Linked DNA regions of Homo sapiens. The protein of the gene in region 3 purifies or fractionates together with the protein of the main gene of each other region. This does not show direct contact. Each region holds a gene or a part of one and is shown on either strand. Other genes may lie near its edges. The genes, in order: IGF1R, RTF1, ARRB1 and DOCK4.

Region 1 (7,660 bases), on a different chromosome or scaffold from region 3:
AAATCTTCTCAAGTTGAGTATAAACAGATCCTCAACAAGACTGAGACTCTTGTTGCTTGTGGCTGTGTGGGGATAGGAATCAGCTACAGCATCACTTGTATTTTTCCTGCCCTTGGGGTGCTCTGTGGAGACCATGTGATGCCTTCCACAGCTAATGCCCCTAAGGAAAGACCTTAGGCAGATACACACTGAAAGTATACACATCTGTAGACAGCTGTGGGCAAGGATGTTGGAGTTTAGCATCTCTACTAACTCACCTAATAGTAAAAACGGGAAGCATTGTGCTAACATTTTTTTTAGAACAGCTGCAACTATCTAAATTATAATACAATCTTAACAATTTAACATTCAGATACAATTATGCAGAATGAAGTGCACCCATCTTAAGTGTACAGTCTGATGTGTTTCTGCTAAATGCATATACTAGCATAGCCAACACCCCATCAAGATATAGAGCATTGCCATCACCCAAGAAAGTTCTTTATGCCTCTCCCTAGTCATTTGAAACTTTCCCTCTCTACCCACCCAGGGCAGCCATGATTCTGATTTCTAGCTCTAGATCAATCTTGCCTGTTTTTGAGCTTTACATAAATGAGCTAATACAGTATGTACTCTTTTGGCTTATACATTATGCTTTGGAGACTCATTTATGTTTTTGCATGGATTAGTAGTCCATTCCTTTTTACTGCTAAGCAGTATTGCATTGAATGGATATATCATGATTTGTTTATCCATTCTCCTTTTGATTTACATTTGGGTTGTTTTAGTTTTTGCTATTATGAACAAAGCACCTATTGACATTCCCATAGAAGTATTTTTGTGGAATTTTCATTTCTTTTGGGTAAATAACTAGGGCTAGACTTGCTGGATCGTAAGTTAGTTGTATGTTTTACCTTATAAGAAACTGTCAAACAGTTGACATAATGCACTCTTAATGAAGCTTATTACCTGTGAAGTGAGGTCTTTTAAATTTTTTGTCTTTTGATTTTTGTCTTAAATTGCATCGATATTAGATGTGTGGACATTCTTCTGAAATATCTTAAGGATCAGACCTTGATTAACTGTGTTATTTTAGTAGATCTTTAATGCTTCTGAGTTATTTATACGGACAGCTCGAAATCTGAACGACTCCCATTGGAAAACCAGAATGATCTCTTTCATGGATCTCTCCCATATTTTTATTTATCTTCTTTAATGTTTTATACATACAAAAATATGTAGAACATGTGTTAGTTATTAAGCATACTTATAAAATGGAAATTTGTAAATCCGTCACTCAATCCAAGAGTGAACTCATTTCCAAATTACAATGGAAACCCATGTGCCTATGGGCTTCTCATCCTCTCCAAAGGAATTCACATCCTTCATTAATTCTTTTGCTAAAACAAAAGCAAAACAAAGGAAAAATATTATTTTATTATTTAAAGCAAAAAAAATTTTCTGTAACTTTTAAAGTTTTCCTTGCTTTTTAAGAGCTTTATCAAAATGGTGTTACGCTGTGTGCGTTTTTGATATTTGTATATTTTTACTCAGTGTGTTTCAAAGATCTGCCCATGTTGTGTGGGGCTGTAGTTTATTCACTTTTGCTGCTAACATTCCTTTCTGCGAATACATCACAATATACTGTATTACTTGATACTTGTCAATTGTTGTGCTGTTTCTCACGTTTGCACTTGATGTATATGATATACATTACATTTTTTGGGGAGTCTGGTACATTTAGCAGAATAATTTGAGATGAAACTGTTATCAAGTAAACGGCGTTTTTAAAAAATGAAAACAAGCAATCAGTTTCTGCTCCAAAAGAGGGAGAACCTATAAGATACCTGAGTAAAATGGTATAAAATAAAAAGTTTGGTGCATTGTCAATGTGGGTATAAAGCAAAGACTCCAATTAATTTTTGTCTACATGATTTTATTTCAAGGTTGAAAAAATAAGTTTGACTTGTGTATGTAAAATATAATCATTGAAGAAATACAAATCACCTCCTTTGTCCATGTGGTCAAGTTAGAGCGTAAAGACAACCTAAATTTTTGTTCCTTTTTTTTCCCTAAATATTAAGCTATATAATGATACATCTCCCACTTCACTGTTTAAAATAACTTAATACGATTGATTTCCTACTACTTCAGGAAAACACAAACATTTAAAAAATTCACAAATAAAAATCATTTTAGTAAAAAAAAAACACACAAAAACAAATCCTACAACCCCTACAACAACCTATATACATTTAAAAATTCTATAGACCTCTTTATGTTCTTGGGGACAAATAAACAGGCATATTTATTACTAATACTAAAAATACATTGGGTAGTATTTGAAGATTTTATATTAGCACTAGCCTTTTAAAAATCAGCTCTAAATTTTTGTCTTACAAGTATGTATTAAAAATTCTGAAATCAAGTATAATGAAATTATATATCAATATTCCTTTGCATTTAACTCCAGAGTGGATCTGCAGGAATCAAGACCAACCTCATGCAGAGAACTTAAGAAATATTTAAAAATTAGTAGACTGGACTTTAATTCTTCATGTGTAGTGCCTAATTTTTAAATAATACATTTTAAGATTCTAATAAATTTATTTCACTGTTAAATCTAGGAACATCCAAAACTGAAACTCTTTATTTAAAAATCAAGCTGAATTTCAGTTAAACAAAACCATCCCATCATATGAATAACTTTCTTAGGTAAAACAAGGTTTATTTTCTTTCTATACAACTGACTCTGAATTGAGCTAGAAATTTCCAAGGAGGAAAATGATCTAGGAAACAACTTTAGAAAAAAAGGGCTAAGTTTCCGTTATGATAGCTTTTGACTTGTTTTCAGCTCTTAAAAAATTATTTACGAACGATGGATACACGTTCTAATGCAGAAGTATTTTAGAATTAGAGAGTAAAAGAAACCTACTACCTTCCTTTACATCAGGTCCCTTCTACCATCCTACCCGATTGTTTGAGACAACCACTTCTTATCTCGACAATTCACAACTCTTTTATTAGCTATCTTAAAAAAATTTATTACTGGCATCAATTAGCCTGAGTCATGAAACCGGACCACATTAAGGGCGACACATGGTCCAATCACTGTTTGTAAAAGTCCACGTATTTCAAACTCCTCTCTCCTGCCACTGCTGGGCTGTTTCCCTCTTTGAGGACCTGGTCTCCGCAGCATTTATTCATTAGATGGCAGTCCTAGGGGAGTCTCGCTTTGGGGAAACCTCTCCTCCTGCACATTCAAGAAAACAACCGCGGAGACTTAGGGTCGGTACTGGTTTCCAGTCACTTACGTAGCAAACGAAGCAAGAGGAACGTGCCTGGGAGGACCCGAGACAGGTGCGGGTGGGTTTCCGCAGTAGCCGCTGATCCCGAGTGCATGCGGCGTGTTCCCGGGTCGGGACCGCGGCCAAGGGAGGCTTCCCGGCCCCAGCCTCCACCCCCTCCTCGGCGCCCCGGGACCCGGACACGCCCCCCGAGCTTCGGAGACCCGCAGCGTGCACGCGCCCCGGCCGCTCCCCGCAGCCGCCCACGTGGTGGAGCCCTGAGCTGCGCGAGGCCGCGGAGAGCGCTCAGGGCGGGCGGCTGGTCCGGGAGGCCACGCCAGCGCGACCCAGCCGAGTCGGCCCCCAGCCCGGGCCCCCACATTTCCTCCCCCGGAGGGAGGGAGGCGACTCTCCGCGGGCTGCCCTCCCCAGCGCCCGCCGCGCCCTCTGGCGGCCGCCGCGGGGACGCGCCCGGGGCACGCGGCGCTGCCTGTCTGGGCCCCCCTTCCGGGGCGCGGGGCCCGCGAGGGGCGGCGGGGTCCTCTCTCCTCGAGCCACTCTGGGCCGAGCCACACGGGCCGCGCCCTTCCCCCTCCGCTCCCCCTGAGCCCCCAAACTCCGGGCTCCACGGTCGCAACGCCGCGGGCACCCCAGCCTGGCGTGAAAGTGCCCGGCGTAGTAGCCTGGGGGGGGGGTCCCCTTTCTCCCAGGTGCGCCCCTTCCGCCACGTTCGGGCTTTCCAGTACGCAGCGAAAAAAATGCCGCATGCACGCATTTATTTATTTTGCAACAGCTGCAAGAAACAATGAAGCTTTTCAAGAACCGGGGAAACGCGCTTTCCAGCCGCGCTGTTGTTGTTTTCAATGAACCTCTCCCAGCCCCGCACTCCCCGCCCACCCCTCCCCTCTCCTGCCCACCCCTCCCCTGCCTAGCCTTTCCCTGGCTACCCACCCCTGCCCCGCCGAGACCGGACCGGCGGCGGGGGCATTGTTTTTGGAGTCGGGCGGGAGGGGAGGGCGCGTGCGGGGTGGCCGGCGCAGTGCGGTGGGGGCGGGAGCGGGTGGGCACGCGCGCGTGTCTCTGTGTGCGCGCGGGAGGCGGTGGGGCGGGAGATGGGGGCGGCGCCTCGCAGTCTCGCGCCCCACGCCCGGGCTCCGCTCCGCACGTCTTGGGGAACCGGGCTCCGGTTTTTTGCGCGCGCCGGCCTGGGCCGGGCCCTCGGCGCGCCGCTGCTGCGGCGGTGGCCGCTCGAGTGTGCGAGCGGGCGCGTGTGCGCGGGCCAGGGCGCGCGCGCGCGCGCGAGCCCCCAGTGTGTGGCAGCGGCGGCGGCGGCGCGGCGAGGCTGGGGCTCTTGTTTACCAGCATTAACTCCGCTGAGCGGAAAAAAAAAGGGAAAAAACCCGAGGAGGAGCGAGCGCACCAGGCGAACTCGAGAGAGGCGGGAGAGCGAGAGGGACGCCGCCAGCGAGCCTGCCCACGGCCGGCGCTCGCAGACCCTCGGCCCCGCTCCCCGGATCCCCCCGCGCCCTCCACGCCCCTCCCGCGCGGGGGCAGCTCCACGGCGCGCCTCGCCTCGGCTGTGACCTTCAGCGAGCCGGAGCCCCCGCGCAGAGCAGGCGGCGGCGGGCGGGGGCCGGGCGGGGGCCGGCGCGGGGCGGGCGGCGGCGCAGAGCCGGGCGGCGCGGCGGGAGTGCTGAGCGCGGCGCGGCCGGCCCGCCGCTTTGTGTGTGTCCTGGATTTGGGAAGGAGCTCGCCGCGGCGGCGGCGGCGCTGAGGGAGGAGGCGGCGGCGAGCGGAGCCAGGAGGAGGAGGAGGAGGGGGAGCCGCTCATTCATTTTGACTCCGCGTTTCTGCCCCTCGCCGGCCTCGCCTGTGACCCGGACTTCGGGGCGATCTTGCGAACTGCGTCGCGCCCTCCCGCGGCGGAAGCTCGGGCGTCCGGCCGCCTCCCGCGCGGCCAGGGCCGGGCTTGTTTTTCCTCGCCTAGGCAGATTTGGGCTTTGCCCCCTTTCTTTGCAGTTTTCCCCCCTTCCTGCCTCTCCGGGTTTGAAAATGGAGGCCGACGACGCCGACAGCCCGCCCCGGCGCGCCTCGGGTTCCCGACTCCGCCGAGCCCTGGGCCGCTGCTGCCGGCGCTGAGGGGCCGCCCCGCGCCGCCCGCCCCGTCCGCGCACCCGGAGGGCCCCGGCGGCGCCGCCTTCGGAGTATTGTTTCCTTCGCCCTTGTTTTTGGAGGGGGAGCGAAGACTGAGTTTGAGACTTGTTTCCTTTCATTTCCTTTTTTTCTTTTCTTTTCTTTTTTTTTTTTTTTTTTTTTTTTGAGAAAGGGGAATTTCATCCCAAATAAAAGGAATGAAGTCTGGCTCCGGAGGAGGGTCCCCGACCTCGCTGTGGGGGCTCCTGTTTCTCTCCGCCGCGCTCTCGCTCTGGCCGACGAGTGGAGAAAGTGAGTATGTGCCCGCCGCCCGCGGCCACTGCGGGAACTTTTCCTCCGAGGGGCTGCGCCCTGTTTGCGAAACCCGAGTTGCCACCGTCGCAGCTGTCGGGCCCCCGGGCTCGGGAGCGGCGGGGTGGGGCGCAGGGCGGCTCTGCCGGGAGGGAGGCTGCAGCGGACCCGGGACCCGGGCTCGTTCGTCTGGAGCCCCGCGGGCCCTGGCTCCGCGCATCCCCGCGCGGGAAGGGCTTTTCTCTTTCTCCGTCCTGACAGCCCAGCCGTGTTTCCCGGCTAGGCGCGAGGACTCGGTAGGGAAGTTGGTGCCGGGGCGGGCTCCGCGGTTCCCGGGCCCCGCGACCCGCACCTCGCCCCTTCCATGCGCAAGAGCCTCTCCGCACACAGCGCTGATCCCCTGCGGCGCGCAGGCAGCAGCGACAGCACCCTGGGCCGCACCGCGTCTCCGCTGCTGGGGCTGACCGGGCAGTGGGGAGCGGGCAGCCGCCCGGCCCGCGGGGTGCGAGTTGCCCTCGAGGGGGGAGGTGCCCTGCGGAGAGGCCCCGAAGCCCCAGGACACGTCTCCAAGCGCCCGTCGCTGCCTCCCGTCGCCCAACGTGCTTTTGCCCCTCGGGCTCCTCGGGTTCCTGGCCTTGCCCGTCACTTTGGCCCGCTCCTCGTTGGGTTACCTGCCCCCGGCGTCCCGGGGCTGGGCGGTGGGGTGAGGGGAAGCGCTCTCTGGGCAGCCCCCCGGGAAGTGCGAGGCCGGGAGTCTTCCTCAGCTTGTCTCTTCCGGGGAGCGCCACTGGGTCCCCAGTTCAGAGGGCTCTGGGATGGTCTCCCAGTTTCTCCCGGGCCGGGGGATGGAGGGGTACTAGGGCCGCATCCGAGTGTGCGTTGGTGGGTGTGTGGTCGGAGCCGACGTGCATTCCGACACACGTGCTCGCAGCGCGGGGTGTAGTCGCCGCCTCACGGGGACACCTAGACGCCCGTCCCTGGCGAGAGGTGTCGTACGCTGTGGTTTCAGCGCCAGGGTCTGCGGCGGCGCGGGGAGGGTGTTGTGTTTTGCGAGCGCGGAGCCCTGGCCTTGGTTTTGTTGTGGTCGGCGTCGTGTCGCCCTCTCTTCTGCCGCCCCGCACTTCCTTTGTACGTAGTTAATAAGCAGTGTCGCTCCACATTCGCTGTCTTTTGCAATCTGATAGCTTTTGTTTTGGTGGTGTCGGGTGGGGGTTAGTAGGGAAGCGCGGGGATGCGGGGAGCGAGAACTCCCCCCGGTGTCTACGGCCGGAGGAGGTGGGGGTTTTATTCTTCTGAAAAAGTTGAAAGTGTGGCTTACTGGTACATTCAAGATGGTAGGGTAATTTGAACACGATTAAAAGTTTAAATGTCGCAGAACTGGGACTGGGAACGGTGAGGGCGTGTTGGTGAGTAATGGTTGCCGAGGGTATGCAGGTGGTGCCGATTAACTTTGAAAAAATCACGACTGAGCCTTCACGAGTGAGGCGGGGAAGGAGGAGGCAGCGGAGGTTGTATGGCCCCATCACCGGGGCAATTCAGAAAGGCTGTTTCTATAAACAAATCCTTAAACGTCTGGTAAGAAATGAGTCCGCGACGGAACGAGAGCAGATCGTGGTTCGCGTGTTTACTGCCGAGTGGGACGCGGACTGGGGCCGGACCTTCCACAGATCTGGGCTCTCCTGCTCTTTGTTTTCTAAACTTTCAGCGGACTCGATTGGGCGAAAGCCTTCCGGCTCCCTTTACTAAGTCGTTTAGGTGGTGGCTGGGGGGACAAAGGAGGGTTTTTATCTTTAAAAGATAAGTACGGTTTAGAAGACACGGGAGAAATAATCCATTTTGTTATGTTATGCAGTTGAACTGTATAGCTTCTCTAGTTTTGTGTTTTTAATGTTCTGAAATTCAAAACAGCAGGGATGGCCTTCGCCGACGCAGGAGTCGGGCATTTTAAA
Region 2 (7,103 bases), on a different chromosome or scaffold from region 3:
TCATGCCTGTAATCCCAGCACTTTGGGAGGCCGAGGTGGGCATATCACTTGAGGTCAGGAGTTCGAAACCAGCCTGGCCAACATGGAGAAACCCTGTCTCCACTAAAAATACAAAAAATTAGCCAGGTGTGGTGACAGGCACCTGTAGTCCCAGCTACACGGGAGGCTGAAGCAGGAGAATCGCTTGAACCCAGTGGGCGGAGGTTGCAGTGAGTTGAGATTGTGCCACTGAACTCCAGCCCAGGCAACAGAACAAGACTCCGTCTCAAAAATAAATAAATAAATAAAGTGGCAATTCTCTGCAGTTCCCACTTTGAAAAAGCTTTTTGTGGATCAGGTGAAATATCTCTACCACGAAAAGAAGCACTCAACTTATTTTATTCATCAGAATTCTGTGGGAAACTACTAAGGACAATAATTTGCAGTTCAGTTCATTCATCACTTGAACAGATGTCTTGAGAGTGCTTTACCAAGAAATCCCCCCAAATAATCCTTTTAATGTATGTACCAATTTCCTCTAAACTATCCAGTGTACTTTATAAACACGAACTCTAGCACCATGAAAAATGACTGTGAAACATTATCATTTTGCAGTATGAAAAAAATTTAAAACTAACAGATTGAGTTGGTATAGTGGAAACAGTATAGGCTTTGTACTCATGCAGATCTGGGTTCAAATCCCAATGCTACCACTTACTAGTTGTGAGTTATTTAACTTTTTCAACCTCCATTTTCTTTATGTAAAGTAGAGGAAATAATTCCAAATTTACCATAATGTGAAAACTTGAAAATCTAAACAAAACAATTAAAGTGCCTACTCTAGGCACTATATAAATGGTAGCCAATGTTGTTATTGTCTGAAACATTCACATTTGTAGATGAAAAGACAGAAAAAAATAGATTCTACTCCTTCTAATTGCCAGTCTAAAATTATCTACCAATCAAACTTTTACAGTCGAAATTATACTTTTGATATTTTTGTAAACTTCAGGAGCCTTTCAATGAGAACATTTTCAATTCCTACCCCAAAACAAAGTTTCTATTCCTTAGATAGTCTTACACAGGCCCCATTACTTCTCCATCTCCCTACCACCATTTTCAAAGCAGTCTTCTTTCTACAGCACCTCCTCAATCCTTTTCTTCTTAAAAGTCCTCCCCTTGGCGGAGCTTGCAGTGAAGCCAAGATCGCACCACTGCACTCCAGCCTGGGCGACAGTGCGAGACTCCGTCTCAAAAAAAAATAAATAAATAAATAAAAAGTCCTCCCCTTTTATGCCTTAATACTTTCTTTTTCTTTCTTTTCTTTTTTTTTTTTTTTTTGTGATGGAGTTTCGCTCTTGTTGCCCAGGCTCACTGCAACCTCCGCCTCCCGGGTTCAAGAATTCTCCTGCCTCAGCCTCCCGAGTAGCTGGGATTACAGGCATGTGCCACCACGCCCCGCTAATTTTGTATTTTTAGTAGAGATGGGGTTTCTCCATGTTGGTCAGGCTGGTCTCGAACTCCCGACCTCAGATGAGCCTTGGCCTCCCAAAGTGCTGGGACTACAGGCGTGAGCCACCGCGCCCAGCCCCTAATACTTTCAAACTGAGACCTCTGGCTTCATATAAAAGACCCCCAAGAAGCCATTCATAGAAAAACTTTACAATTAGCAAATGCTTGCACTGCCATCAATTTTTACAAACACTTGATCTTTACAATAAACCAATTAGATACACAAGGCTGATGTTACATTTTCATTTTACATTTAAGACCAAAGATATATAGCTAGAAAATAGCATAAGCCCAGCCTAGAATTCAAATTTTCAGACTCCAAGTTCAATACTCTTTCTACTCAAAAGCTACTATCTCTTGCATATTCTTTCTTTACATCATTTGCTCATTAAACAGAAAGGAGACCATCTTTGTATCGCCTGGTATCACTAGAGCACTGCTACAAAGAGCAGATTCCTCCCTACAATGTTTTCTAGAGTATATAAACAGTTCAACCCCAAGACACTGAGGCCAAAAGTTACTTTCAGTGCTTCCTGCAGTCTTCAAGTAAGAAAGAATTCTGGGATGCTGCGTGAAAGGGCCAAGAGGAGGCCTGGGCTATGCACAGTCCCTCCATGTCGCCCTACATAGTTCTCTATTTCTTCCAGTATCTGCCCTCTTTCCTCCACCCAAGAGTGTTTTTTTGGGTCTGACACCTCAACAAGGGCCCTTCTCAAACACAAACGACCCTAGTCGCCAAATAAACTCGTGCCCACAGCTAAGTCATCCTTGGCAAGCATGGCAGAGGCTCCTAGGAACATTTACGAGTGTCCTTCCTCTGTCCACATCCCTTGTCCGAAAAACTTCCATCTTCCAGAGTCCGGATCTTCTTGGCCCTCGCCCCCAACTGCTCGACGCGCACCCTTGCACCTCCTCCAAAACCTCCCAGCCTCCCAGGTTGGCGGGCGATACTTCCTATCTCTCCCAGCCCGGATCTCCTGGACTACAGCCCGCCGCCCCGATCTGGCCCCGGAAGATCGCGGCCCCTTTCGCTACCCCCGAGCCCGAGGCCCAACGGCCCGGTCCCTGCCCCGCCTCCCCGCCCAAGGCGCCAAGTCCTCGGGGCTCCGTCTCCAGGCCCGGGCCGGTCTCCAAGGCCCCGCACACTCCAGGAAGACGGGAAAGGGGCTGTAGTGGTGCCCAGGGCACGGGGCGAGCTGGGCGCTCTGGTAGGAAGGCTCCAGGCCCGGCCGTCTCCGGCTCCCGCGGCCCCGACAGCCCTCTGGCTCCGCCGGCCCGCGCCTCCGCGGCCTGCCCTCACCTGATCCAGGTTCTCGTCGCTGCCGCTGTCCTCTGTGTCCGAGTCGATCACGACGCGGCCTTTCCGCTTCTTTACCATGGTGGTCCCCCGGCTCCCACGCCGGCCGCCGCCCGGACTCCCCTCTTGCCCGCCTGCCAGTGGGACCGCCACTGCCGCCGCCGCCGCCGCTGCTCGACCCACACAAAGGCGACCGCGCATGCGCGCTCCGCTCCGCCCCCCTGGCCCCGCCCCCTGCTCGCCGCACGCCGTTCGCAGGTCGCCGGGTGCCCCGCCCTGCCCCGCCCCCGACGCAGCGTGAGAGGCGGGGCCTTCCCCCGTCGCTGGTTCCCGGCAGAGAGTGGTGGTGGCTTTACCCGCGACTGCCCTGGAGTCCTTGGCTGTATCTCTGCTGCGGAGCCGAAGTTTGGTGGGCTCTCTTCCTATCGGGGGCTGGAGCCGCAAGGATCCAGGTTCTCTCTGAGGGGGCTCACGTGTCTACCTACTTTCAAGCTGTCCAACACTGATGGCGTGTACTTAAGGGGCCGACGGCCTGGAAGACATAAGTCGCCTGGACCACGCGGTGGACACCGGTTGGGGGCTGGAGACTGCCGACCCGGGCTGTGCGAATGACAGCTGAGCTGGGACCTGGAGAATGCATCTGAATTACCCAAAAGGAGAGTAGAGTGTTGCATGCAGAGAACAGCGTAGGCAAAATGGCCCGGCGATAATAAAGTTAGGTTCGGAGAACTGAAGTTAGTTATGGCCAGAGCAGAGATTGTGGGTGGGGATAGGCGACAGACCAGGCTGGAGAAGGACACGGCGACTGCCTCACTCAGATCCTAATAAGTAAGCTGAATTAGGGAGTTTGAACTTGAGTATTGAAAGATTTTAAACTGAAGAACCACATGATTTGATTTGTGTGTGGTTTTGTGTTTTAGTAGAGACGGGGCCTCCCTATATTGCCCAGGCTGGTCTCGAACCCCTGGGCCCAAGGGATCCTCCTGCCTTGGCCTCCCAAAGTGCTGGGATTACAGGCGTGAGCTACCGTGCCCAGCCTGATTTGTGGTGGTGTTTTTTTGTTTGTTTGTTTGTTTGTTCGTTTGTTTTGGAGACGGAGTCGCTCTTGTTGCCCGGCCTGGAGTGCAGTGGCAGCTCACTGCAACTCCGCTTCCCAGGTTCAAGCGATTCTCCTGCCTCAGCCTCCTGAGTAGCTGGGATTACAGGCTCCTGCCACCACGCCCGGCTAATTTTTTTTTTTTTTTTTTTTTTGAGACGGAGTTTCGTTCTTGTCGCCCAGGCTGGAGTGCAATGGCGCGATCTTGGCTCACTGCAACTTCTGCCGCCTGGGTTCAAGCGATTCTCCAGCCTCAACCTCCGGAATAGATGGCATTACAGACGCCCTTCACCACGCCCTGCTAATTTTTGTATTTTCAGTAGAGATGGGGTTTCAGCATGTTGGCCAGGCTGGTCTCAAACTCCTGGCCTCCGGTGATCCGCCCGCCTCAGCCTCCCAAAGTGCTGGGATTATAGGCATGAGCCACTGCACCCAGGCCTGATTTGTGTTTTTCAAAGATTACTCTGACCGCAGTATGGCGAATGGACTAAGGGCAGGGAGATCGCTTGGATTGTTGTTGTCTTCTTGGCAAGAGATGATGGTGTCCTGACCTAAGGACGAAGCTGTGGGAATGGAAAGAAGTGGATGGACTCTGGATAATTTGGAACGTAGAATCCCCAGGATTTGGGATAGGGGTAAGGGAAGGAGTGCTCCCAGATACCTATTGATGTTCAGATTCTAGCTTAGGAAGCTAGTGGCAGGTGAGCCCTTCATCAAAAAAATGAAATACAAGAGGAGAGAAGAAGGTTTTGGGAACTGGTGTGTATAGGAAATAAGTTTTTATACTTAAGTTTGAGGTCAGCTGATAAAAAGGTCAGCTCCAGAAGTTATTTCCTTTAGTGATTAGGAATATAAAGTAGGGGCCGGGCGTGGTGGCTCACACATGTAATCCCAGCACTTTGGGAAGCTGAAGAGGGCCGATCACCTGAGGGCAGGAGTTCAAGACCTGCCTGGCCAACATGGCAAAACCCCATCTCTACTAAAAATACAAAAATTAGGCCGGGCACAGTGGCTCACGCCTGTAATCCCAACTTTGGGAGGCTGAGGCAGGGGGATCACAAGGTCAGGAAATCGAGACCAGCCTGACCAACATGGTAAAACCCTGTCTCTACTAAAAATACAAAAATTAGCCGGGCATAGTGGCGTGTTCCTGTAATCCCAGCTACTTGGGAGGCTGAGGCAGGAGAATCACTTGAACCTGAAGGCGGAGGCTGCAGTGAGACGAAATCGTACCACTGCACTCCAGCCTGGCAACAGACGTGACTCTTTCTCAAAAATAATAATAATAATAATAATAATAATCTGGACCGGGTGCAGTGGCTCTTTCCTGTAACCCCAGCACTTTGGGAGGCTGAGGCAGGTGGATCACGAGGTCAGGAGCTCAAGACCAACTTGGCCAAGACAGTGAAACCCCGTTTCTACTAAAAATACAAAAATTAGTCAGACGTGGTGGTGGGCGCATGTATTCCCAGCTACTTGGGAGGCTGAGGCAGAGAATTGCTTGAACCTGGGAGGTGGAGGTTGCAGTGAGCTGAGATCGCGCCACTGCACTCCAGCCTGGGCAACAATAGCGAGCCTGTTCTCAAAAAAAAAAAAAGGAAAAAAGAAAATAATCGCACCACTGCACTTCAGCCTGGGTGACAAAGTGAGACCCTGTCTCAAAAAAATAAATAAATAAAACAACCTAAATAAAGTCCAACTACCTCTTTACCCTAGAAGAGTTTTCCTAAGATACAGCTCATAGACTTTTCTCCCCCGACATATCCTTGGAACCATGGCCAAGGTGACCCCGAATCACCAGCCCAGCTTCCGTATGTCTAGCCACCCTGAAGCCTGTGGTGCCCTTCTGGAGGACCCTCTTTAAATGTGTTAATACACAGTACTGCTAAAAAGGAAGCCATGACATGGTCAGTGGCCCTTGACTGGAATTAATAAAAGTATGTTCTTTGAGTGAAATCTGTAGATTTTGATCTTTCTGCAAGGGGTCTTCTAATGATTCACGTACTGAAGTTAGTCCGTATTGAGTCTAATCAATGTCTAAATTTAGTGAATAAACGTTGCTTTAAACTCCCTCTTGAGTCAGCTTCCCAGAGAACCCAACCAGTCAAAGTTTCCAATTAGTAAAATGAGGATAATGATAGTGTCTGTCTCTTTGGGTTCTTATAAGGTTTAAGTTTACAAAGCAGGCATGGAGGCACAGGTCTATGGTCCCAGTTACTTGGGAGGCTAAGGTAGGAGGATCGGTTGAGCCCAGGAGGTGGAATCCATCCTTGGCAACTTAGAGAAACCACGTCTCAAAAAAAATAGTAAGTTAGGCCAAGCCGAGTGTGGTGGCTCACGCCTGTAATCCCAGCACTTTGGGAGGCCGAGGCAGGCGGATTACCTGAGGTCAGGAGTTCAAGACCAGCCTGGCCGACATGGTGAAATCCCATCTCTACTAAAAATACAAAAAAAAAAAAATTAGCTGTGCATTGTGGCAGGCGCATGTAATCCCAGCTACCTGGGAGGCTGAGGCAGGAGAATCACTTGAACCCAGGAGGCGGAGTTGGAGTGAGCTGAGATCGCGCCATTGCACTCCAGCCTGGGCAACAAGAGTGAAATTCCATCTCAAAATTTAAAAAAATAATGATAATAATAAGTTAGGCCAGGCGGGGTGGCTCATGCCTGTAATCCTAGCACTTTGGGAGACCAAGGAGGGTGGATCACTTGAGGTCAGGAGTTCGAGACCAGCCTGGCTGATATGGTGAAACCCCGTCTCTACTAAAAATACAAAAATTCGCTGGGCGTGGTGGCACCCACCTGTAGTCCCAGCTACTCGGGAGGCTGAGGCAGGAGAATTGCTTGCACCTGGAAGGCGGAGGTTGCAGTGAGCTGAGATCACATCACTGCACTCCAGCCTGGGCAACAGAGCGAGACCTCATCTCAAAAAAAAAAAAAAAAAAATACTGTCCATTATCTAATCTTGGAATTTTTTTTTTTTTTTTGAAACAGAGTCTTGCACTGTCACCCAGGCTGGAGTGCAGTGGTATGATCATGGCTCACTGCAGCCTTAGACTCCTGGGCTCAAGCAATCCTCCCACCTCAGCCTGCCAAGTAGCTGGGACTAGAGGCATGTGCCAACACACCCTGCTAATTTTTTTATTTTTATTTTTTGTAGGGACAAGATCTCACTATGTTGCCCAAGCTGGTCTCCAATTCCTATCCTCAAGTGATCCTCCT
Region 3 (7,111 bases):
CCCAGAGAGGCCTGGCCCCCAGCCCACAGCCGAGACCACCAGGCAGTTCCTCATGTCGGACAAGCCCTTGCACCTAGAAGCCTCTCTGGATAAGGAGGTAGGAGGCTCGGACTTGGCAGGGGGTGGGGGCTGCTCCACCAGGGCCTGGGCCTCAGATCCCAGCTCTCTCCTGGCCTGCAAGGATGCCTCAGGTAGGAGCTTCTATCCCCAGCCCAAGGACCACAGGGGTCAGGGAATCTGAGACCTCTCATGGGGGATTTGGAGAAGCCTCTTGGGCCTAAAGGAGTGGCAAAGGGGGCATGAACTTGAGAGATGTGATGGACTTCCGAAGTGAGGAGCAGACCTTCCTGAAGGTCCTGGACATCTCCCCCACACCTCCACCAGCTGCCTGCCTCAGGCCGAGTGCTGAAGGTCAACCAGCATTGCAGAGGGGGCACGGTGGGGGGCCGTGACCTTCCTGCCAAACACTGAGCGTCAGGGCGACAAGCCCTGCAGAAGGAAGGGCCTCCCCTCAAACTCTGAATCAAACCCAGCTGACTGCTGTGAGCTTAGGCTGGCCCCTCCTCAAGGTGTGGGCACCCCCTCTCTCTCGGGGCATGGCTGAAGGGAAGTGCCTTGGGGCAAGATGCAAGTTGAGGTCTTTTTGTAGGGATTCAGAGCTGGCTCCCTCAGTGAGCTGGTGAGCCCATCCTCACCTTTCCCTGCTTCTTCCAGATCCTTCTGTGGACAGAATTTAGAGCTGGCAGGGACTTCAGACATCACCTAGTCCAACCCCTTCGTTGCACAGAGGGAGACCCTGAGGCTTAGATAACCTACCCACGGTCACACTGCTTTCATCATCGTCAATGTTATTGTTGTTATTGTTGTCACAATTACTGCTGGCCAAGCCAGGGCTGGAGCCCAGGACTATCACCTTCCAATTCCGTTATCTTTCAAGGGTCCCACCAGGGAACTGAAGGCTAATGTGCTTGGTGGCTTTCATGCCACCTTAGCAGCAGTGGGAAGTGGCTGATGAACTTGGGGCAAATGTCACAATGCCTTGGGGGATTCGGAGAAGCCTCTTGGGCCTAAAGGAGTGGCAGAGGGGGCATGAACCTGAGGGATGTGATGGACTTCAGATGGGAGCAGCAGACCCTTCTGAAGGTCTGCGCAAGGTCTGGGGAACCCCAGAAGATCGCGTGGGGGCTTTTCTCCCTCCCCTTTCCCTAGAACCTTGCTGTCCTCCCAGCCAACCCCGTCCCTTCTTATGCCCCCCAGATCTATTACCATGGAGAACCCATCAGCGTCAACGTCCACGTCACCAACAACACCAACAAGACGGTGAAGAAGATCAAGATCTCAGGTATCCCAGACAGAGGGTCAGCTTAGGGGACAGCGAGAGGCAATCTTCCCAAGGGCTGGGGGTGGCTGAAGTATCTCCCCTTGTTAACAGCCTTGTATAAAAAATAGCCACTGAAGCCCAGGGCCTGCTCTGAGCCACAGGGCAAAGCTTTTGAGTTGGGTAAGGCAGGCTGCTTATTGGCTAGGTAATGAGTTTGCTCTTTAAGCCACCTCTTCAGTTTCTTGGGTTCTGGACAAAGCTGTCCTTGAGGGGAAGGCTTTGGTTATGGAAGGAAATGGGTGTGTTTGGGGCTACCCTTTGGATGTAAGACAGGGGTGGTCTTATGCAGAAGTCCCCACTGGTGGCCTCTGGCCATTGCCTGGGGCTGAATATCCCCAACCCGGGGACGCCTGTGAGACTCCATGGGAGCTACATTCCCGACTCACTCCACCTTGATTCCTCTCCCTCCCTAGTGCGCCAGTATGCAGACATCTGCCTTTTCAACACAGCTCAGTACAAGTGCCCTGTTGCCATGGAAGAGGCTGAGTAAGTGGGCACAAGTCTGGCCTTGGGCGTATGGGATTGGGTGGGAAAAAGAGAAGCTCTAGGTGTCCTGTTACAGGTCCAGGTGGCTCTTCTCCACCTGGCAGAGGGCTGGGCCTCAGACTTCCTTGCCACTCAGAGTAGATGATCCCGAAGAGCCTTTTAGAAACCATCCACCTGATTTAGCTTCAAGAAAATGCATGCTACAGTCAAGGAAGAGACCCACTAAAACTAGAGTGACAAAACAATAGCTAATGAATGTAAGGGGATTGGGGTTGTGAGAAGAAATAATTACGTTGTACAAGAAACCTAGGTTGAAGGGAAATACTTTGTTCTTGGCTTCCTGGTAGCCAGGGCAAAGTGGGTAAGGCACTAGGTACACAGCTCTTGTCTGATAAAGGGGTAATCCAACTCATTGGGAAAAAGGGGTTGTGTGTGGGAGTGCAGAGAATAATTACACACAAAAAAATCATCTAGGTTTGAGGAGAACTGCTATGGTTGAGCATGGATCGAACTTTGTCCCAGGCTTGTTGGCAGCTAAGGCAAGTGGAGAGATCTGAAGTGAAACATCTTTACTTACCTAAAGGAAGTAAATGCTCCCATTCAAAGACATACACATTTTTTTTTCCTGGCCCTGCAAGTAATTTCTTGGGGCAATTATACCTGATATAATTTTACATGTATATGTGTATTTGTTTATGTATAATTCCAATCAGTATTTCTTGCAACTGAAAATATTTTTAAAATGTTACTACATGGCCTTTGAAATAGTTTTTAATGTCCTATAGGTGAACATGCTATGATTAGATCAAGCTTTCTCTGGTTACTGGATATTTTTCATATCCACTGTTGATTTTTTCAAAAAAATCAGAGCTATGAGGCATAGATTCCTGATGGTAAAGTGAAGTGATCTAGAACCAGAGTAACATATAATCCCTAAAGAGTAGAAAATCCCAACCACTGCAGATGGTGCCAGCGTCTGCATAACGAATACCAGCAGGGATGGCTGGGGAGGCATTTGCACTCACAGACTTGTTTACTTCTCAGGAAGCGCTGTGGGGCTGGGGTTGCTGCTGCCCCAGTATGTAGAGGAGGAAGTGGCTCAGAGAGATGTGACTTGCAAGTTAGCAAGCAGCAAAGCTGGGGCTGGAACACGGTCGTCCGACTCCAAGGCTTGTTCACTATCTGCTGCATGACAGCTCTCTCATTGGAAAGGATGGGGGATAGAGCAAAAGCAAGTAAAAATTGGACAATCAAAACACCCTATATATGATGGATGTGATCAAGCAAGTAAAGTTTTAATTGTTGAGCCTAGATGGTGGGTATATGGGTGCCCAAATAGCTTCATTTATGGTTTATGTGTAGCTATAATTTTTTCTTTTTAAAATGTGTTTAGAGACAGGGCTGGTGCTCACGCCTATAATCCCAGCACTTGGGGAGGCTGAGGCAGGCAGATCACTTGAGGTCAGGAGTTTGAGACCATCCTGGCCAACATGGCAAAACCTCATCTCTACTAAAAATACAAAAATTAGTCGGGCATGGTGGCGCGCCCCTGTGATCCCAGCTACTTGGGAGGCTGAGGTAGGAGAACTGCTTCAACCTGGGAGGTGGAGGTTCCAGTGAGCCAGGATCGCACTACTGTACTCTAGCCTGGGCGACAGAGCAAGACTCTGTCTCAAAAAAATAAAATAAAATAAAATAAAATAAAATAAAATAAATTTAAATTAAATTTGTTTAGAGACAGAGTTTCACTCTGTTGCCCAGGCTGGAGTGCAGTGGTATGATCATGGCTCACTACAGCCAGCCTCGAACTCCTGGGCTCAAGTGATCCTCCTGCCTCAGCCTCCCAAGTAGCTAGGACTACAGGTGTGCACCACCATATCAGGCTAATGTTTAAAATTTTTTGTAGCGATGGGGTCTTGCTATGTTGCCCAGGCTGGTCTCAAACTCCTAGCCTCAAGCAATCCTCCTGTCAGCCTCTCAAGTTGCTGGGATTACAGGCATGAGCAACTGTGCCTGCTGTGGCTGTACTTTTTTTTTTTTTTTTTTTGAGATGGAGTCTTGCTCTGTCACCCAGGCTGGAGTGCAGTGGAGCAATCTCGGCTCACTGTAAGCTCCACCTCCCAGGTTCATGCCATTCTCCTGGCTCAGCCTCCTGAGTAGCTGGAACTACAGGCGTCCACCACCATGCCCGGCTAATTTTTTTGTATTTTTAGTAGAGACGGGGTTTCACCTTGTTAGCCAGGATGGTCTCCAACTCCTGACCTCGTGATCTACCCGCCTCGGCCTCCCAAAATGCTGGGATTACAGGCGTGAGCCACTGCACCCGGCTGGCTGTAATTCTTTAAATAAATGTGCTTTTTAGCACTGTGCTGCTTGACTAGGATAATCTTTTAGAATATCCGAGATTCAGTCCTGTTTGTGCGTAGAATGTAGATGTGCCTCTTTTGAGTGGCAGTGGTCTCCTTGCCCGAGCTGGGCTGGCCCAAGTGGTCCGTGTGTCTGGGGGACAGAGGTTGGGAGAGGGAGACTTGGAGCAGGCTCAGACTAGATATTCTGCTGGGCTGGAGATCAGGGCTGGGGTTGGCTCTGGGGAGGGCCATCTCCACAGCTGCTTCCTTTCTTCCCAGTGACACTGTGGCACCCAGCTCGACGTTCTGCAAGGTCTACACACTGACCCCCTTCCTAGCCAATAACCGAGAGAAGCGGGGCCTCGCCTTGGACGGGAAGCTCAAGCACGAAGACACGAACTTGGCCTCTAGCACCCTGTGAGGACCTGCCCTCCTAGCCCTGGGCTCCTAGTGCATCTTGCCTGATGGGGCCACACCCTCCTTGGTCCCCCCAGTTCAAAGACAAGGCTCAGGCTACCCTCTCCATAGCCTTGTCAGGGCCTGTCCTCAGGTGCTTGACTTGTCAGGGAAGCTGCCTCCTTACTCCCAACCCTACCCAGGGGTGACTGAGAGAATAAGATGGACCACTAGGCCAGCTCACTCAGGCAGTGCTGGGCTCTGCTACCATGCCTGGGGGAGGGCAACCTGGGAAGGCTTCCTGCAAGAGGTGGCAGCTTCTGACGTAATGCCTTCAGTCAGATGGGGTGTCCCTGAGGAGAGACCAGGGTGGTGAGCTGGGTTAGACCCAACATGGGGTGCCCCTCCAAGTCAGGGGTCCCAGGGCATCTGGTCACTCCTGCTGCACAGTCATCGTGGACGCCTCTAGGCTACTCTGCTCCAGCAGAGCCCTGGCTATGGGGATGCCATCTTGCCCTCTTGCCAGTGTGGTCCTTCAGTGGGGCTTTGGCCTACGTCTAGAGCAGCCGCCACTCCCAGCACAGACTCAGCTCTCTTCAGCAGCCCCTGCACAGCCTCCCACTTACCTGAAGCTTTTTGCCCTGTCTCCACCCTGGCTCACACCCTACCCATCTTCAAGACCCAGCTGAAGCACCACCTCTGCGGAGAAGTCCTTCTCTGATGGCCCCCACCCCACCCCACCCCAGCTGCCTCGCCCTCTGTGAACTCCCCGTGTGGCCCTTTCTGCCCATGGGTTGCTGAGAGAAGCAGAATCCATCTGAGGGGAGGAGGAGCCTGGCCCTCATGGCGGGGACGCTGGCCTGGGCAGGGAGAGGGGCTCAGCAGGGCCACACAGTGAGCGAGTCTCACAGTCAGACTTGGAACCGGGGCTCTGGGTCCCTGCTACCTAAGGGCACTGCTCGCCTTCCTCATCTCCACTGGGCTCTATTGGACATGGTAGCTGAGTGGCTAGCCAGATGGGGGATGGACGGCCACTGCCCCCCAGCATACCCACCCCTGAGGTGTCTCGCCCACCTGGCAAGGCCCCTGAACTGGCTCCCCTGTGTCACTTTGCAGGTTGAGGGAAGGTGCCAACCGTGAGATCCTGGGGATCATTGTTTCCTACAAAGTGAAAGTGAAGCTGGTGGTGTCTCGGGGCGGGTGAGTGCTCCAGCCAAGCCCAAGACCCCGGAGTGCAGAGGGGAGCGTCCCAGGTGCCCACAGGCCCCTGCCCCATTCTGCCTGTTTGCAGCCCTTTTAGCTGCATCCACCTTGGAGGAGGAACCTCCTGTCCCTTCTTTTCCTCCCTTCTGTTCCTCTTTCTCCCCCGCCCGCTTTCCCTCTCTTCCTTCCTTGGCCCTCAGCCCCTCTCTTACCCCCACCCATCTCTTTCTCTCTCTCCTCCTCCTCTATCCTAGGTCTGGGCTCGCACTGAGGATTGGCCATGCCCAGGGGACGGCGTCCTCAGAGTCTTTGCTGTGGGGTCCCCAGGGGTGCCATCTCCTTATCACACTTTGGGCATAGCACCCACCCCCATGCATGCCCAAGCTGATTTTCTGAGGAAACAGCTAAAAGGGCTCAGAACCCAGAGCTGGATTGGGGATTTGCTAGTCAGCTTTCCCATTTTACAGATGGTGAAACAGAGGCCCAGACAGTGCCCCAAACATTGCCTGAAATCTCCTCTCCTAACTCAGGTCATAGTGGTGGACCAGACTGCCCTGCCCTGGAGCATAGTTTGGTGGAAGCTCAGGGAGAAAAACAAACAAACAAACTACTGTGTTTCTTTTTTGTAACTTAATTCATAAATTTCTATGAAAAGATTGAAAAGCTAAATCCCATTAGACATTGGGTCTCCTTGATTATTAGAAGAATGCCTCTTGGCAGGTGGCAGTATGTAATCCTGACCTTATATAATAGGACATCTCAAAATTACAAATCCCAAATCCTGTGTCTGGTGACCTTTCAGGACCCACAGTCCCTCAAACATTCTTGGCAACCCCGGAGTCCTTCCCTCTGCCTTTAGATAGTCCGGCCTCCCTTGGGACAGGCAGCACTGGGGTTAATTTTTACACTGCCTTGACAGATGAGGATCCTGGGGCTCAGGGGTTTGCTGAGCTGGGTCTGGATCCCAGTCCCTCGGGGCAGGGCTAATGCCATTTCGGTGTATCCCTGAAAGAGCAGTCAGGGCTGTGCAGGGGGGTGGGTGGGAGTGTGTCCCGTGGGTCTTCTCTATCCGGGGGACAGCAGAAGTGGTGAATGAATGTGCTTTTTGTTTTCTTCCTCTCTGAACTCTCTCCTGACCACTTCTCCTGCCTCCTCTGACCCACCCAGCCTGTTGGGAGATCTTGCATCCAGGTAAATTCCTCCCTTCCACCTGGTTCACCCACCTTCCTGGAGGGCCTGGAGCCCATTGGCTTGACTGACCAGAATCACAGGGCACTGGGTTGGAAGGAATCTTAGT
Region 4 (7,111 bases), on a different chromosome or scaffold from region 3:
TATACAAGAAGAATCAAGAAAGTATAGGGAAAATATTCAGAATTACCTCATGGAACATATTCAAGGCCATGCTATTTGGGAAGTAGATGGATCCTGTTCTTAAAAAAAACATGTGGGGCTACTTCCGGTAATGGAGTTTGGCGGCAGCAGCAGCTCTGCACTGGTCTTAAAAGATCAGTCCCAGGATGATTAGGGTCAAGTTCAATAAAACAAAACAACATGCAGCTTAGCTGAGTCCAATATAATGATTCTCAAGTTGACAGATTAAAATGCAGTGAGAAGCTTGGGGAAAAGAACTGCAAGAGATTGGCCCTAGTGAAATTCCTTCCCCAGGGCTGGTGGTGACAGCATGTCCAGTCGTCAGTATGTGTTCTGGTAACCGGAAATGAAGCTGATGCAAACCAATAGCCTCTCCATGCAGAGAGAGAAGGGAAAGGCAACCCACTTCTGCTCAGCTGGTACACAGAAGGTAGGGGAATTTTAAAAGTCTACTCATAAAGTTGGTTAAGCTACAAATATAAACTGGAGCAATTGACTTCTGATGGAGAAAACATTTGATTACGCTGCTGTGTAAAAATAAATAAACTGCACTTATCGTTTTCTTCTATTCAGCATAGATGAAAAGAAATTACCTGTGACTGAGATAATGCTCCAGACCCTTTGCTCTCTTGCGAAAGAAAGAAACGGACTGACATGAGAAGCTCCTGAATGCAGCAGCGGAACTCCTCTTCGTTTTGCCCACCAGTGGCAAGGGAAAACAGCCTTCGAGATTGAACTATATACTTAAAAATGTATTCTTGTGCCTTAAAAATACAATTTTTAAAAGTTAGCTTCAAAGGAGACAAAGAGTATTTATTTAGCAATGACACGGCATAAAAACCATGGTATGGCATTAAACTTTTACATTATTCATGTAGACACCAAGGCCTTGTGAGGCTTTTTTGAACAGTATTTACTTTAAGGGGGAACAGCCACTTTTCTCTGATGCCTAATGAGAGAAAAAAAATTTAAAAACACTTTAAATTTAAAAGAAATTTAAAAGAAATAGAATTTTAATAGAAAATTTAAAAACACTTTAGCCGGGCACGGTGGCTCACGCCTGTAATCCCAGCACTTTGGGAGGCCGAGGCGGGTGGATCACCTGAAGTCAGGAGCTCGAGACCAGCCTGACCAACATGGAGAAACCACATCTCTACCAAAAATACAAAACTGGCCAGGCATGGTGGCCCATGCCTGTAATCCCAGCTACTTGGGAGGCTGAGGCAGGAGAATTGCTTGAACCTGGCAGGCGGAGGTTGCAGTGAGCAGAGAATGCACCATTGCCCTCCAGCCTGGCCAACAAGAGCAAAATTCCGTCTAAAAAAAAAATTAAAAAAAAAAAAATTTTATCATTCTGGAGTATGATGAACACTAAGTGTTTTTGACCCTCAGATGTTTTTTAAATTTAGTCAACAAAAAGATAACTGTTTTTTAAAAAATAATTTTGTTTTGACAGGTAGTACTCTTGCCACTTAGCATTTTACCTTCAATCAGCCCAAATTACAAATGAATAATTCACAAAATGCTATTTTATAAAATGTATACATTGTCTACTTAAAGCTACTGACACCAAATAGGATGGTCCTCAACAACAGGAATCAGAAGACTACCAGGGCTGTTACTGGACAATTCCTTTAAGAATTTGTACTCTTTTTCAACATGTTTGCAAGTAAGGGATTAGTATCTCCACAGACAACTGAGCATATGGTGCCCAGCGATGTGGGCAGCGTTAAGCCACAAGACCCGGTAAAGCCTCAGGTTTCCTCATTATAATCCCCGCTAAGCCACCCTATTTGCTCTTAAAATTTAACATAAATGGTTCTCCGATGGTCTCTGTCAGGTTGGTGGAAGCAAGAGCCAGGAACTTCTAAGCTTAACTGCCCCATATAGACTTCTCTCATAAACCCTCCCTCTCTCCTGCTCATCTTAGACTTCACTTCAAGTACTCTCCAGCCCAGAGGAACAAGGATTCAATCCTGAACAGTTTCCAGTAGACTACCCTGGCAAAGTCCCCTTCAAATTTCATCAGCTCTCAAGCAGTCACAAACTGATTAAGATCCTTGAATTGGAATGTCAGTAATACATCATCACCCATTACTGTCTGTGTAGAGGAACCAATTAGTTTAAGCATCAGCATGCAACAGCTTTGTTAGACTCTGCTGTTATCAACAGCATGTTATCACCTTCAGCACCTCCTGGATATGCTCTTGCCGCTCTGCTTCTGTGATCCGGTCCACGTACCATTTGAGCACTTTGATGAGATCTCTAAAATACAGGGGAAAATGTGCAGAATGTAAAATTGGTCTAATTCTCAATTAAATGCCAACAAATCCAACTCTTAACTATATCATGAGGAGGTTTCTTTTCCCATCAGTTCTCACATTTTCCTGTCAATCTGCTGTATAATAATTTTACTAAATCTGCAGATCAACACTGCCACCCTTTTCAAAGCTTAAGGGAGAAACAACACTCAATCTGGACATATTCCATAGCCCTGCTGTTTCTGGTAATGCCTCCAAATGGGTGAACACAAATATTGGAGAAAAGGACTGTGCCCAACCAAGTGCCTGGCAGTGTGAGTGCCATGGTCAATACTGTAAAACTGCTCATTGGGATTTCTTTCCCAGTGACCACGTAAACAGCTGGATGCAATATCATTAGGCTGCAGGCAAAACGGGGTGGGAAGGAGGGATGGAGACAATGCCTCCCCACTGCTATGCACACCTTATGGATTTATCAAGCCAATTTTCTGACCCATGAGAAGAACCTGGCTTATGTCAATATGTGCCTTAGGAGAATTTCTAGAAAGGCCAAGGTAATTTTTTTTCCTGTTTTGAAAAAATGTAAAAACAACAGCCCACAACTCTCAAGATGACAGTCTTACACCTTGAACTTTGGTCAGTTCTTGGTTTCTCTTTTTTCTTTTTCTTTTCTTTTTTTTTTTTTTTTTTGAGACAGAGTCTTGCTTTGTCACCCAGGCTGGTGTGCAGTGGCTTGGCTCACCGCAACCTCTGCCGCCCTCCTGGGTTCAAGCAGATTCTTCTGCCTCAGCCTCCCAAGCAGCTGGGATTCAAGTATGCACCACCACGCCCAGCTAATTTTTGTATTTTTAGTAGAGGCCCGGTTTCACCATGTTGGTCAGGCTGGTCTTGAACTCCTGACCTCAAATGATCTGTCCACCTTGGCCTCCCAAAGTGCTGGGATTACAGGCATGAGCCACTGTGCCCAGCCAGTTCTTGGTTTCTAGGAAACAGTTTACCCAGCAATGTTTCTCTGGGTCAGGGGAGAATACTTGGATGTGCCAGTAGGTAGATGTTGGTGGAGTGCTATTTTTTAAGATAACATGCTAGTGAGTTTCTGATCACCCCCAGCCTAAGAGGATTCCACAAGCCTTATTTGTCTTTTTAAGATCCTGCTTTCCTGGCCAACCGGAAGTGTGAGAAATTATACTCTTGTTTTCTAGCTTCCAAAGACAATTTAACTTGGAAGCAGTAACCTCCTCACACTAGGGCCCAAATTGTTAGGCTGAGTGGGCCGATGTTTCAAAACTATTCCTGCGGTTGCATTTCACTCTCAGCAAAAAATCACACTGATGAAGTGTCAAGTCTAACAAAAATACCTTCATTCATTTCGATGTTGGAGACGTCGATCTTAACCTGTCATGGCTGGGAATATCCAAGTAAACAGGATCAAATGCTTATCTGATAACCTATTAACCTTTATATATTACATAGATGGGGGAAGGATATCAACCTGATTTCATGCTTTTTAAACTCACCTCAGGGAACAGTCAGGCATGTGCATGCCCACAGGTGCTTAAGGTATAAGGTAGAAATATGGGAGAACAGCAAGGACCATATTGGACTGGGAGACAGACGATGGGGTACACTCCAAGGCTATTTAAGCAGTTATTTGTCGAACTAAAAGAGAGAAGCTGTGGCCTCTGGCAATTATCAACTATGTTGAGAGGAGGCAGGCACTAGCCAAAGCATAATATTATTCATAACTTTTCAGCACCACCTGAGCCAGTAGAAAAGGAGGAGCAGTTAAAATAGCAGCTCCTATCAAAGAGTAGATCCCAATGACTAAATTGCCTGAGGCCAGGGACCAGGTCTTCACATCATCAGCATAAAGTACAGTGCCTGGCAAGCAGCTGGCACTCAGTAAATCCTAACATAAATGAATGGATGACTTTCAGCAGGTGTGAAGGAAAAGGTTGTTTTCCATTCATATTTCTTTCTTATGAACATTTATAATCATCAGGGAGTACAGTGATGAAGTGGGACTCTTAACAGCCGAAGTGAGATAACCAGACATTTTAGACCAAAGAATATCCAGTGAAACAGAGACAAGAAGGAAAGACTTTATATTTTAGGGCTCAGGAATAGAATTCAGGAGGTTTTTTTCCCTTTTTAATCAAAATAAGTTCTACCCATTTAAAAAGGGTGTGTTAGCAGGGAAGAGACTATCTCAAGAGACACTTCAGTAGTGCTCCATTTCTTCCTACACTCCCTTTTAAATTTTCCTATATCGCCTCTTCTGCTGAGAAAAGCTTGAAAGGAACCACTTCTAAACTAATTACAAGATACAGGGCCTTACCTGTATGCAAGTGCCCCAGCAAAATGACTCTCAATGTAAGTGTCCATTACAGGTTTAAAATGATGAAATTTGCTATCTTGCAGCAAATTTATTATGTGAACCTAAAAAAAGAAAATTGAGCTTTATAAAACTAAATGCAAATCAAGGTTTTCCTTTTTTTTTTGCTTCTTTTTAAAATGAACTCTTACATTATTAAGCACATGTTTCTGAACCAGCCTCATGAAAGTCAAGATTGAGAGACAAAACAGTTAAAATACAATTAAGGGAATTTGAACTTACCAAAGAATCAAACACTTTAGACCCATATTTTTGGGAATTTTCATCTAAAATTCCAAATAAGGTATCCAGTGTATCCTGCAGAAACTGTTAGATAAAGAAGTAGCAAATGAGTAAATAAGATACTATCTGTCTTTTTCCTCCAAATGTTCTTTATTCTATGAATCTCTGCAAGGAAAATAGTAATGAAATACTATATACCTTTACTATCTCTGAGCCATCAATTTCTTTTAATTTAGAGAGACAGCCAGTGATCTTGTCTGGGTGGGTTCTCCATTTCAAAAGATCAAGCATATCACCTTTCAAAATAGAAAAGGAAGATTAATTGCCTTAATAGAGAACAGGTCCTCACATGAAAGCGTTCTGCTAGTAAAAGTAAAATTCTTAACACATGTGGCTCCCCTCTCCTAGCCACTCAAGTTGCAGGCTCCCACAAACTATGACTAGCCCTCTCTAGGATGGCATTTATTTCACTGTATTCTGTTTCCTCTCCACTGCTCTTGACTTACAAACTCCTACCCATCCTTTAGTCCTCAGATCGGATGTTGCTTCATTTTGGAAGCCTTTCCTGAAATCTCGAGCTAACTGTCCCTTCTACATGCTTCCACATCACAGTAGCACTTACAAATCCTTACAAATCAGGCAGGTGACAAATATTTGTTGATTAATTTTTCTGCCTCCTCCTGGAAAGATGAGAGTTTCTTGAGGGCTGGGAACCTGCTTTATTCCCGTTTGGGTGCCCAGCACATAGCACTCTGCCTAGCAACCAACTCCACCCAGGAACAAAGGTCTTCTTGGCAATGTGACCCAAATCTTGCAGACTAAAAGAATGGTAACAGGCCCAGTGATTTCTTAGATCATCCAGGGAGCTCTCAACCTGAGAAGAGCAGCTCCTGGACTCCACAGGCCATCTTTCATCCCAGAGTCCAGATAAGCACAGGGCCCAGCTCTTTAACCCTTTCCTAAACAGACATGAGGGCTTTGGTCCAGCAGGTCCTTAGAGAACCTCTTCACCTGGGGAGGGAATAAATTTATCTTTCTTGGGCAGAAGTTACAAAGGCTGTGGGAGATGGTCTCCATGCATTATTAGTCTCCAACGCATGCAGGGAGAGGTGGCATCTGGAGGCCAATGAATGCAGTGAGAACTGAAGGCTCGCGTGTGCCGAGCACGCGCAGGGCAGCGGGACCTGGTAGAACTGGCCTCAGGGCTCAGTGGAGTTGCCAGACTAGACTGGCCGAGAGAGGAGCCAGGACAGAATTTCCAGGCAGGGAAGCAGGAAATTTACTTCAAATCACTTGTTTTAGCAGAAACCCAAAAGGGACTTTCTGAGAAACAGAAAGATGATGAGGGAACAAAAACTCCAAACCCCCCAAACCAAGGAAGTAGGTAAGATGAGAAAGAAAAAGAGAATATAGAGAACACCAGTGAGAAAAAGCATTAAGAATCTCAAGGAGAAAGAGAAGCAAGCTCCACCAAAGCCAGATTCAAGAGAAAAACCTCACAAAGGATTTACTATTAATAGTAAGGAATTCAGTACCAAACAGGAATGTTTATCTGCAACAAACACGGGTAAGAGGAGGAGGAGGAATTAGAATGAGAAAAATAAAGTGATTTTAAAAATACTGACTTTGAAAAAGAGATTTATGATGTTTTCATAACCAAAAACCCTGAAAATGTTGACTATTCAGATGTAATTCAGACATCCTGGGGTATGACTGAAACCTTTTAAAACTGATTGGTTATATTTGGCATATCAGATATTTCCACAGAGTGAGACTCAGGGCGACAAAGGCAAAGCTCTATTGTTCTCCCCAGTTTGCTGCTTCCCTCCTACCTACTTCCTACTTCCTGCATCTCACTTCAGGAGGCCTCCCCTCCCTGGCATCTTCTCTTTCATAATCCCTCGTGCATTTCCCCTGCCATTCACTCCTCACTTCCCACTCCACCCCCATCCCAGCTCTCACTCCTCCTTTGTGTTCTCTTTCCCTTCCTTTAAAGTGAGGCAGTTGCAGGGGCCATCAGGACCCTGCTCAATGTGAGGAGTGTGGGGAGGAAGGAGGTGGCTATGCTGGCTACCAAGTGGCAGCAGTGGAGAATGAGGACTAGGGCCCATTTAAGTAGGGCTGGAAAACAGATTACAGGGGTCCAGAAAATGAGTCAGGATGAGCCTGCCCATCCTCCCTGCAAGAAGGCTGA

What was found.
Region 1: the proteins of ARRB1 (region 3) and IGF1R purify together in Homo sapiens (affinity purification with western blotting; 3 studies listed by BioGRID and IntAct, with this or other methods). This does not show direct contact.
Region 2: the proteins of ARRB1 (region 3) and RTF1 purify together in Homo sapiens (affinity purification with mass spectrometry; 3 studies listed by BioGRID and IntAct, with this or other methods). This does not show direct contact.
Region 4: the proteins of ARRB1 (region 3) and DOCK4 purify together in Homo sapiens (affinity purification with mass spectrometry; 2 studies listed by BioGRID and IntAct, with this or other methods). This does not show direct contact.

The regions. Positions count from the first base shown.
Region 1 is NC_000015.10:98,643,965-98,651,624, forward strand, and holds the start of IGF1R (insulin-like growth factor 1 receptor isoform 1 precursor), read left to right. Parts: upstream 1-4,574; 5' UTR 4,575-5,617; coding exon 5,618-5,711; exon of another isoform or gene 5,712-6,823; intron 6,824-6,876; exon of another isoform or gene 6,877-6,986; intron 6,987-7,660. UniProt on the Homo sapiens protein: Receptor tyrosine kinase which mediates actions of insulin-like growth factor 1 (IGF1). Binds IGF1 with high affinity and IGF2 and insulin (INS) with a lower affinity. The activated IGF1R is involved in cell growth and survival control.
Region 2 is NC_000015.10:41,413,002-41,420,104, reverse strand, and holds the start of RTF1 (RNA polymerase-associated protein RTF1 homolog), read right to left. Parts: upstream 3,011-7,103; 5' UTR 2,990-3,010; coding exon 2,792-2,989; intron 1-2,791. UniProt on the Homo sapiens protein: Component of the PAF1 complex (PAF1C) which has multiple functions during transcription by RNA polymerase II and is implicated in regulation of development and maintenance of embryonic stem cell pluripotency.
Region 3 is NC_000011.10:75,271,595-75,278,705, reverse strand, and holds part of ARRB1 (beta-arrestin-1), read left to right. Parts: coding exon 1-97; intron 98-1,257; coding exon 1,258-1,342; intron 1,343-1,794; coding exon 1,795-1,867; intron 1,868-4,494; coding exon 4,495-4,632; intron 4,633-5,727; coding exon 5,728-5,811; intron 5,812-6,981; coding exon 6,982-7,005; intron 7,006-7,111. UniProt on the Homo sapiens protein: Functions in regulating agonist-mediated G-protein coupled receptor (GPCR) signaling by mediating both receptor desensitization and resensitization processes.
Region 4 is NC_000007.14:111,867,352-111,874,462, forward strand, and holds part of DOCK4 (dedicator of cytokinesis protein 4), read right to left. Parts: intron 5,214-7,111; coding exon 5,116-5,213; intron 5,002-5,115; coding exon 4,918-5,001; intron 4,740-4,917; coding exon 4,639-4,739; intron 2,305-4,638; coding exon 2,223-2,304; intron 804-2,222; coding exon 633-803; intron 1-632. UniProt on the Homo sapiens protein: Functions as a guanine nucleotide exchange factor (GEF) that promotes the exchange of GDP to GTP, converting inactive GDP-bound small GTPases into their active GTP-bound form. Involved in regulation of adherens junction between cells.